Regions from separate parts of the Homo sapiens genome. Here region 2 is linked to region 1. Evidence: fine-mapped expression QTL. A gene starts in region 1. The other region holds a variant in brackets. All regions are shown on one strand. Distances are from middle to middle.

Region 1 (5,362 bases):
ACCAGACCCTGCTAGGGGAGAGTCCCACTGTCCATCTTTCTTTCCCTCTCCTTCCCACACACCCCAAATGCACCCCACTCAGGTACCCCAGCCCTGCTCCCAGAGACAGCCAAGGTCACAGGAAGCCCCTCTCAAGAGAAAACAACAGTTACCAGGCTTCCAGCTGGACAGCTTACCACTGCGGCTCCTGCAGGGACCCCCTGGATTCTGCACCTCAGCCCCCTCACCCATTCCCATGACACCCCCTGCCTTCCCCCTGACAATATTCTCCCGGGACCCTCCACTCCTCCTGGGCCCCAAGGAGGAAAGGGGACGGAAATTTCATACCCCTTCCAAGGCCAGGGAGCACAGGAGGGGCGGTTCTAGGCAGGCAGGGGCCAGGTGTCCTTCTCTGGGGGCCTCTGAAGGTCACACTGTGGCCAGGCAGCCACTCCTCCCCCTCCTCCCTACTTGGAGGCCTGTAGCCAAGGCCTTTGTGCCAGGGTCTGAGGAACTTGCGGTGTTAGCAGCGACCCCTGTCCATGGCTTTCCTCTTGCCTCCTCTCCAAGGGAATTCTGGCTGAGGGAAGGCGTCAGAGAGGAGCGGAAAGGGACCCTTTAGAGTCCCTTTCAGAAGCAAGTTGGGTGGGCAGGTTTGGAGTTCCAAAAAAACACCTGCTCCAGGGCTGCCTTTCACCAGGACAAAGTGTGTGCAAGGCTGGCAGGAGCTCCTTTCCAGGGTTCAGGAAGGACTATTCCCATGCTGCCCGTGTCACAGCAAATTTCAAGCCATTTCTCCAAAAGGGTAAAGTGGGGCAATGACTCTTCAAATCCTCCCTTGACCCACCCCCACGAGAGCTAAAGCACAGCTCACTCGGAACTGTTGGCGAGGGAAGGGAAGCACACTGTCACCAAGTCGGGACTTTCGGTGGAATGTGACAAAGCGCCCAGTGGGCTCCCGCGCCACGACTTCTGACAGTGATCATCCTTTCCCTGGACTCTGGGGCCAGAAAGGGGTTAGATGGATCTTCTCCGCAGAGAGAAATGAAAATAAGCGGGGTGACAGGGGCTTCTCTCCAGGCTAAAAAGGAAATGGGTGAAGAGAAGGGGCGTCAGGAAATTCCTCCTAGCACTGGGCAGAGGTAGGGTCTGGAGACAGTAGGAAGGGGTAGGGATGGTTCTCTGGATCCCCGGGCTGGGGCTACCTCGAGAGGTCACCTTCCCGCGGAGGGCTGGCGGGGGGAGGGGTGCCGCTCGCCACTCTGGGCTCCCCATTCGGGCAGCCGAGGCTCCGGGAACACGCGGCCGGCCAGGCCCGGGCTGATGTAATCGGCTCCGCGCCGCGCGCACCCGGCCGGGCGGGGGAGGGCGGGCACCGAGCGGGACGCGAGCGGGGACGGGCGGGGTTGGCGCGGCGCAGGTGGCCCAGCAGGGAGGGGGGGTCCCCGCAGCAATCCACCCCAAAACTTTTCCCAAACTCGCGGCGAGGGCTGAAGAGACCGAGTGGCAGTGACAGCAAGCCCCCTCTCCCTCCTGCGCCCTGCCCCCTCCACGCTCTCTGCCCTCCCGCGGTCCAAGGTCCGAGCACCCCCTGCCCACTGGTCTCTGGCTCCCGCCCCCGCTGCTCAGACTTCCAGTTCGTCCGGGACCAGCGGCCGGGAGCAAACTTCAGCCGGCAGCGGCAACGCAAGCCCAGCCCCCTCGGCCTCCTCCTCCGGCTCCCGCCCTCGGCTGGTCGGCCCAGATCGTACGTGCGGTGACTCCGGTGGGTGGGCAGGGCCCGCGTGGGCGGTGAGCCTCTCTCCGGGTACCCTCCCACCTAGCGCGCGCGCCCCCTCCCCCTGCACCTAAGACGACAGAGGGGGACGCCGCACGCCTGGTGCCCATGGACCCGCGTGGGGCACGGAGCCCCCACGCGCGCGCTCGCACGCACGTCCCCAGCCGGGAGAGGCGCTCGCAGCGGCCCGCGGCGCCAGCAGGGCACGACCGCTTACCTTGGCATGGTGGAGGTAGAGCAGCAAGGCAAGGCTCCAATGCACCCAAGACAGCAGAAAGTTCATGGTTTCGGAGGCCCGACCGGGGCCGGCGCGGCTCGCGCTCCCTCTCCGGCTCGGGCTGTGGGGCGGCCCGCTCTCCTCGGCGCCTCGGCGAGCTACTCTTCCTCCCCGGCCCGAGGCCCGGGCCAGGGCCTGGGGAGCGCGCGCGGCTGGAGCACTGTCTGCGCACACCGCCGCCTCACCCGTCCATGAGCCCGGCTTCCGAGCGCCGAGTCGCCACTGCGGCCCCCTCTCCTCTTCCTTCTCTTCTTCCTCCTCCCCCTCCTCCGGCTGCGGCTCCTCCCGGCCCGAGCTAGCACTTCTCGCGGCTCCGCTCGGCTCGGCTTCCCCCGCGCGGACCACGGCTCCTCCGAAGCGAGAACAGCCCAGAAGTTGGACGAAAAGTTTCAGTGCGACGCCGCGAGCCCCGACCCCCTCCACCCCGCCTCCGGGCGCGGGCTCCGGCCCCTGCCCGCGGCTCGCCGCCGCGTCCACTGTCCGCCGCCGGCCGGGGAGGAGGTGGTAGCTGGGGCTGGGGGCGGTGTCTGTCTGTCTGTCCGTCAGCGCGACTGGTCAGCTGCGGGATCCCAAGGGGGAGGGCTCACGCCGCGCTCCGGCGGTCACCCCCAAAAGCAGGTCACTCACTTTGCCCCTGTCGCTTTCGCTGCTCGCACGCCCGCGCGCTCTCTCTGACCCCGTCTCTCTCTTCCTCGACTTCTCTCTGGAGCTCTTGCTACCTCTTTCCTCTTTCTGCTGGTTTCCAAAATCCACAGTGATTTGGGGAAGTAGAGCAATCTCCCCAAGCCGTCGGCCCGATTCAAGTGGGGAATGGCAAGCAAAAATAAATTAAAACGAGAAACAATACAGTTTTAAAAAAAAATGTTTAAGAAAAAAGAAGAGGGATAAAACCCGGATCAATGAATATCAAATTCCAGCACCGAGCGCCCTGGCCGGTGAGTCCGCTGACCGGTCCACCTAACCGCTGCGCCTCCCGACAGAGCGCTGGTGCTAGCCCCCAGCGCCACGACCTCCGAGCTACCCGGCTGCCCCAAGCCTCCGCGATCCTCCCCGCTACCAGCCGACTTTTAAAAAAAAAAGGGGGGGGCGCATGGCTCCGCCCCGCCGGGACCCCGCCCCCGGCCCGCCCCGGGGGGCGGGGACAGGCGAGCCTCAGCCCTTCCACACGCGGCTCGGGCCCGGGCTCTGCGGACGCTCAGTGAAGCCTGGCCCGCAGCCCGCCGCAATGAAGGGGAAGCTCGACCCCCACCAAGGTTCACAGCCTGAAAATTACCCATCCGCCCCCGGAAACTCTGTCCAGAGACACGCGCCCGCGGGGCATTGGCGAGGAGGGAGCAGGAAAGTGAGGTTACGTGCGGACAGGGCCTGAGAGCCGTTCCCTCTTTGCTAGGAATATTGAAGGGGGCAGGGGAAGGCGGAGAGCCGGACAGGGACGGGTGGGGAGAGGGACACACAGATCTATTGGAATCCTGGAGTGACCCCTGGCCTTCTCCCCGCTCCAACGCCCTCAACCCCACACGCACACACTCACTCACCCACACAGACACACACGTCCTCACTCTCGAAGACGCTGCTCGCTCCATTCACCCAGCTTCCCTGTGGTGGCCGAGCGCCCCCTAGTGACTGCCGTCTGCACACCCCGGCTCTGGCTAAAGAGGGAATGGGCTTTGGAAAGGGGGTGGGGGGAGTTTGCTCCTGGACCCCCTATTTCTGACCTCCCAAACAGCTACATATTTGGGACTGGAGTTGCTTCATGTACAGAGAGCCCAGGGCTGGGCACAGGGGCCACAGTGTGTCCCTCTGACAATGTGCCATCTGGAGCCCTCATCTGGCCTGCAGACATCAAAGTGAGCGGCAGCCAACAGGCTGGAGTGACTGGGGTCCTTTGGGAAGTGTCCAGGGATGCTTCCCAGGGGAGAAGAATTTGGCACCAAGTTTGTGGAGCTGAGAACGGGAAGCTGTGTGGTTCCGGGGTTAGTCAGTGACTGGGAGGGAAGAGGACCTGTTGGAGCCCACGTATGCACTGTGGAGTCTGGCAAAACCCAAAGGGGGAGGCAGCTGGGCAGACAGAGGCCCTTGTTCCTGCTGCCCCCCCAACCCCAGATGTTGCCAGGGAACTGAGGCCAGGGGGCTGGTGGGGGCGGGTGGAGGCCAGGGCCTGCGTGATGATTCAAACCTACCCGCCAGCACTAAGGAACGTCTGTAGGCCAGCTGCCCAGAGCTCCCACCAGGCCAGGGGCCAAGGCTTCTATCAGCCCAAGCCCAGACTCATAGCTCATCTTCTGAATAGAAATGGGGGTTTCGTCTCAGCTCCCCCATTCCCTCAGGATCCCTTGGCTACTTCTCCAGGCTCACAGCTTCTCCCCTATCCTTCCCCCAGTCCCCTCCCTTACCTCCAAGCCCCCTTTTCCTCCAACTCTCCACATCTTCCCTAAGTGCTCCCAAAGGCCCCATCCCATTCTTGCATATAGGAAGCAGCTTGGAAAAATTCCTAGCTGGTTTCTGACCTGGCTATTTCCAGGCTGCCCCAGGGAACAAAGTTGGGGCTCTGAGGCCTGTGGGAAGAGTGGGACCAGTCAGTCTGATTATCCACCCAGATCTTGCCAGGGTCTGGCCTACAGCTGGCATAGCCTCTGTGGAGGCATGGACTGAGAATGGGAATGCAGCAATTTCCCTCAATTTAACCAAAACGCTCCAGGGAGCTTACCTAGTCAGCCCCATCCTCAGCACATGTTGCTGTGGTTTGGTGGAGGTGCTAGGTTACCTCCCCAGTACCCCCAGTTCCATCGGTATGGTGTCCTAAGGCCCTTATGAGGAAAAGGGCTGGCTCCCACCCACCCCAACCCTCCCTTTCCATCATTCGTGCACTAGTCCTGTCTCCACCACTTGGCAGGCTCCCCAGCAGCAGGGACAAGGTCTTTGTACAGTTAGTAAATGTTTATTTCCTGGCTCAGGGCCCCCTCCCAGGCAGGCCTCCTCACCTGGGCTCCATGCTCTAGGCTGATGAACGGGATATGGAAGGGAAGCCACTAACTTTCCTCCTTGTGCGCCTCTAGCACCCCAGGAGCACAAGCTGTAGACATCTTGGGGCAGGATGGAGGCTCTGAGCCCTAAGGGCTCATTCTGGCCCCCTCCCTTGCATCCCTTCTCAACTCGGCCTTCTTCAGCCCCTAAAAGAGCCAACAGACCTGAAAGAGCAGGTCTTAGTAAAAAACAAATAAACAAATCTGAAGCTAAGAGGAGGCTGGAGGGGTTCCAAGGAGGGATAGCCATCACCAGTCACTCCGTGGCCCCAGGCACCCCCCACCCCCATAAGCCAACTGTCCTCC
Region 2 (5,362 bases), 290 kb before region 1:
TTCAGGACAGGCCACTGAAGCTGTGTGCCCTATTCAGTTCTGGACTCAGTCCACAGCTCCTTGCACACAGAGAGCTCATGTCATGGGCAGTCAGAATTCTCCCTTAGGTCATCCGGAATCGTGTTTACTTTAATGTAAGATCATTTCTTCTCCTTCACTTCTCCAGAGAGAAATGACAGCTCCTTAGTTCTCCTCTTAAAGTCCCTGCTCATTGTTAACAGTGGTCACACTCGTAATTTTTTGAGGGTACAAATCTGCCAACACACTCATCATTTAACCCCCAACTTTCTCTGGGGAACTTCAGGAAAAGCATCCCTGGGCATTAACTCATCTAACTGCTTATCATGGCGTTGATGTCACCCCTGAGCCTGCTCTTGCCCAGGCAGAACAAGCCCGATTTTTTCCCCCTTTCCGTCGGGCCTGTGTTTGCCCTCTCCATGGCATCTGCGGCCCTGTCTGGCCTCTTGCCAGCTTCTTGTGACCAAATGTGGACCTGGCCTGGCCAAGGAGGAGAGCTTGGGGGTCAGGGCCTGACCTGACAGCTGTCCCTCCAGGGGTCCCAGGCAGTGGTACCAAAATTTAAGCCTTGGCTGCCCCCACCCTGCCAGGTCTCCCTACTACCCCCATTCCATCTTATGCCGTCAGGATCCTGATGTGTGTTTATGGTGTGGTGCTCCCAAGGCATTACCTGGTCCTTTAGGTCCCCAAAGCGCTGGAGATATTATTCTGGAGTGAGGAGTCCAGGTTTCTTTCCCTAACTCATGCCACAGACCAATCAAGTGGCAGCTTCTTGTTCCTCACACCCCAGGGCAGGATTTCAACAGCAGCAATAATAGCACTGACTGCTTACTGAGCACTTGCCTTGTGCCAGACACTGTGATGAGCACATTACAGTAGCCCTTTCGCTGAATACTCACAACAGCCAGGTGAGGTGGGGTCCACGGGTATCCTTACTTTATAGGAATCCCAGGCACAGAGAAGGGTTTTGTCTGGGCTGACAACGGATTTAATGCTACACTGATTCTCTGTTTAGTTTTGGTTTGGTTTTTGAATCACTTCACGCTGGCCCTGAGTGAGGCGATAAGGCCCATTCCCAAAGCACAGGTGGGAAAACTGAGAGTCCGACTTGGGCAGTGAGTCAGGTAGGCCATCCTGTTCTGCTATCCCCACACCCCTAGCCTGGCTCTCTGTCATCTGAAGTGTTTTCCCAGGGTATTTCCTCCTTCTAGGTATTTCTCCTCATCTCATGCATTTACCTGGGCTCTTCCCTCCTTTCCATCCATCTATCTATCCATCCATCCATCCATCCATCCATCCATCCATCCATCCATCCATCCTCCTGGAGCCAAGTCCTCCCAACAGGGTTCCTCCTGACCTCACAGGGCAAGTAGGAGGAAGTGCTCCTGGATGGGGACATCACACCCCTGGTAACTCTTCTCTTCTAGACACCTCATCCATCCTACTCTGCCCAGCCACACATGAGTCGAGATTATTTCACCAGAGGAGAAGCTTGTATCAGTTAAATTTTGGTTTACACAAGATAAATAGTGAATTTTTTGCTCATGTAAAATATTTCTGGGATGTGGTCAGAGACTCCTTCTATCTTTCTGACCTGCTAGGTGTGGTTTCCATTTCCAGGGTCACCTCATTGCCCAAGATGGCTGCTGGAGCCCCAGCCAGCAGGAAGGAAGAAGAAAGCCTGAAGAAGGACATGCCCCTTCCCTTCAAGGAAGCTTCCTAGAAGTCACACTTATATTCCATTGGCCAGAACTCAGTCATCTAGCCATACCTAGCTGCAAGGGAAGCTAGGTAGTCTAGTCTTTATTCCATGGGGGTCTGGCTAAAAGTTGGGAAATAAACGAGGAATGGATATTAGGAGACAGGATCTGCCACAAAGCCTCTTTGTTCCTTTTAGATTGCAACTGCCAGAGGGTAAGTGGGGCCTTCCCAACGCCCTGCCTCAAGCAATCCTGGTTCTCTCCCTTCTCTGAGGTCTCAGTTCTTCCCTGATACTCAGTAGTTACTGCCTGGAGCTGCTAAAGGCAGCAGCACAATGCCACATCCGGCTGCCGTTGGCTGTTGTCCACCGTCTGCAGATCCAGGCCAGTGCACTCACTTATCTCACAACAGCTCAACAGGCAGCTAGTCTTAGTCCCATTTTATAGTTGAGAAATTGAGGCCTAAAGAGGTTAAGTAACTTGCCCAAGAGCACGCAGCTGGGCTCTGAGCCCAGTTCCTGTGTGTTTCTTTCTTTCCTGTTGAGCCTTCCCTGTAGGGGTGGATGCCCTGGGCCTTCTCAGGGTCTGACAAGAGGAACTGGAATGGTCTGAGCCCTAGGAGGGGCCTGTCTGGGAGGAGAGGGCAGGCAGGGGCGTGACCTGGGTCCTCAGGTGTCTCCTCAGCACTTACTCAGTGCCATGGTCAGCGAACGCGTCTGAACAGAGTCTACTGACGGGCTTGGGGATTTCTGCTGGCGCCAGCAACTGGCCACTGCAGCCACATCCTCAGACGCCACTTTCCCCAGAATAAGTGTCCTAGACCCAGCAGTGAGGAAGGACAGGGATAGGGCAGCTTTTGTCACTTCCCTTTCTTTCCTCCAGCCCTCCCCAGGGAGGCGGGGGAGAGGGGGACTG[T/G]TTACTCTGCTTTCACCCGGGGGAGGCAGCAGCAGGGGACTCAGCACCTACCCCAGGTGGGCTGCTTGGAGGGGAAGGTGGGGAGAATGTGACCAGCGCTGAGGGGAAGAGGCCAGACGCTGGGCTTCTCTGGAAGACCAGGGCCATGTGGGCCATCCCCCTGCCTCCGGGCAGGACTGTCCGTGCTTGCTGCCGAACATGAGTGTGAGGTCATTGCTCTGGTCTCAGGGGTGGGGGGAGGTGCTCTGAGCGTAAGTACGGTCACCGCCTCTACTTGTGGTTAGTAATGTTACTGTAATATCTACTCCACGATCTCTGGCCAAGAGGAAAGGCTCAGGAGTTGTGAGTCACAGCTGGCTGTCGACAGTGGGGCAGGTCATGCGCAGCTTGAATGGGGGTGTGCTGGGGATGGCCCTGAGACCCAGACGTAACCTCTGTCCTCAGGAGTTCCTGCCAGAAACAGATGATGAACTGGAAGAACAGATGTGAGGCTGAAAGTCCCCAGTCCATGTCCTCCTCCACCAGGAAGTCTTCCTTGATGAACTGCCTTGGGATTGCTCTGGGATTGACCTTGAATTCCTAGCTGTGGCAAGATGGGCTTCTTTTTACTTTGCCATCCTGCCAAATCTGAGCACTGAGCACCTACAGGTTGTGTGCTAGGGGCAAGGGCATGAATAGGAATGTGGTGCTTTCATTCAAATCATTCATTCAGTCATCAAATATGCCAGGTGCTCAAGATACACGGGTGAAGCCATGGACTCAGCTACTCTTATAGAGCCTGGAAAAGGAGAGTCTTAAAGCAAGTAGTCACACCAAAAAGAATTACAAACTGTAATGTGTGCCAAGAGGGAAAATTACATGGGGCTCTGGGAGAATATCCTAGGGACTTAGTTTAGATGGGGGTGTGGCCTGATATTTAAGCTCAGTTCCTGTCTTGCTCTAACAAAGTCCCAGCCTAGCTGGGGACACACACGCACGCGCGCGCACACACACACGCAGAAATGTCTGGGAAAAGATGATGTTTAACTGACAGTTCACTGTATCTTCTTGGTCCGTCCTAATGTTCCTGAACTGGAAGCTCCCTGCATGCCTGGATCATGTCATGTTTGCATGATCAAGGTCCTGCCACCAGGCCTCTGGTACAGGTGGTGCCTAGGAAATATGAGTTCTTTGCATGCCATTAGGAATTATCTGTCCACCACCAAATTAACTGCTCTAAGAGTGCCAGGGTGGAGGATTGGAGCTGTGTGGTCATCCAGGAAGGCTCTGAGGATGAGGAGGGCAGTGATTTGAGTCTGGAAGGACTGAGATCAGGATGAAAGGGATGACAGAAGAGTGTTAGCCCTGTTTGGAGACAATGAGGAGACTGGGAGGTTGATGTTCTGGAAGGGAGTGGCTACGTCTCTGCCCTCAGACTGGCAGATCCCAGACAGCAGGAAGTGTCTCCTCCTTCAGACTGTGAGCTCCCTCAACTCTATGGGACCTGGCTTCTTGTAGACTGAGGCATTATTTGGGTGTGGGTGGACGTGGGAGTTGATAGTGGGTCTTCTATCCCCCCCCAACAGCCCTTGGGCCTCTGGGGAGAAGTCTGTGGACTGGCCCAGAGCCAAGGGACTCCTCTCTCCCTCTCCTCCCTAACATCTCCAGGAAGCAGGGTCCAGAGCCTCAGAGCTTCCGGTCACCTGAATGTGATTAGTGGGAGGCCTCTCCCTCTGGGATCGAGCCCTTGGTTGTGGCCTGAGGTCCCCAGCATGGCCCAGCCTGGAATTCATCTCCCAGCCCCAGTGCCCTTCTCCCTTTTCCCTTCCTCAGCCCAGCTCTGGTTGGGCCCAGGCAAGGCAGGAACTAGGGATGGTCCGGGGGGCTTCCTGGGGCTGTGCCACTCCTGATAGGCAGTGATTCCCCTGGAAGCCCCTCCCTTGCCGCCTGTGAAGGCTCTGCAGGGAGACAGCTCACCAACACGGTGGCATGCTGCCCACCAATGGGGGCCGTGCCAAGTGTGATGTGATGTATGCTGATCCCTCTCCACTCCTCACTGAGGACCAAGCGTCTGCTGCCCCCGCAGCACAGAGTGCCTGGGGCGGCTGTCCAATCACATCCATGGGGGTTTGGGGGAGATGTAGGAGTGGACAGAGGGTCTTCCTCGTGCTGCAGGCAGCAGGGCCAGTCTGAAAGAACCTCCCCCACCCCCAGAACTGGTCTTCCGCCCCCAGTTGATGGAGCCCCTGGGTACTGTCCAGGGTATCAGTCCCTCCGCATTTCACTTGTATCCCTCAATGGACAGAGGAGGTAGGCCCCATTGACCCTCTTGCTCCTCTCACCCACCGTGCTTTGGAAAACATATTGGAGATGTTTCCTTGCCCTCCTTTGTCCCACTCTGCCTGTTGGGGCCCAAGCACCAGGAGAGAGCGAGGGATCCTGGGGATGAAGGGGGCACAGAAGTGGTGTTGCATCCATCCCCTTGGAGGTAAGCGTGCAGATTGACTGGGCTCCATCTCCTTTCTCCTTCTTCAGGGTCCAGTTGTCTGCAATAGGGGCTGTGTTAGGTTAAAGGAGGTCCAAGGCCAGAGGCAGCTATTTTATTCAGGGGTAGACTCTTGGATCCCACCCAGAGACTCTGCTTCTCTAGCTCTAGGGAGGGTCTTAGGATGCTGCATTAAGAAAAAGCCCCCCCAGTGTTTGTGACATTAACGGCCAAGGAGCACACCCTGCTCCTGAGGAAAGATCAC

What was found. PIP is the estimated chance that this variant, and not a neighbour inherited with it, causes the effect.
Region 2: its variant is fine-mapped to the expression of VEGFA in whole blood (TOPMed, PIP above 0.99).

Annotation. Positions count from the first base shown.
Region 1 is chr6:43,767,924-43,773,285 of GRCh38, reverse strand. VEGFA (vascular endothelial growth factor A) reads right to left here and starts at 3,075. Exons shown (of 8, transcript NM_003376.6): 1 at 1,974-3,075. The coding sequence starts at 2,579. RefSeq lists enhancers at 1-352, 353-1,118, 1,119-1,884, 1,885-2,650 and silencers at 1,106-1,625, 1,696-2,635, 3,013-3,262.
Region 2 is chr6:44,056,269-44,061,630 of GRCh38, reverse strand. All of the region lies in intron 1 of SCIRT (stem cell inhibitory RNA transcript), which reads left to right. Among named protein-coding and RNA genes, the nearest start is that of SCIRT, 16 kb to the left of the region's middle. RefSeq lists a silencer at 2,518-2,587 and an enhancer at 2,888-3,067. The variant T/G (reference allele first, on the strand shown) is at 2,634.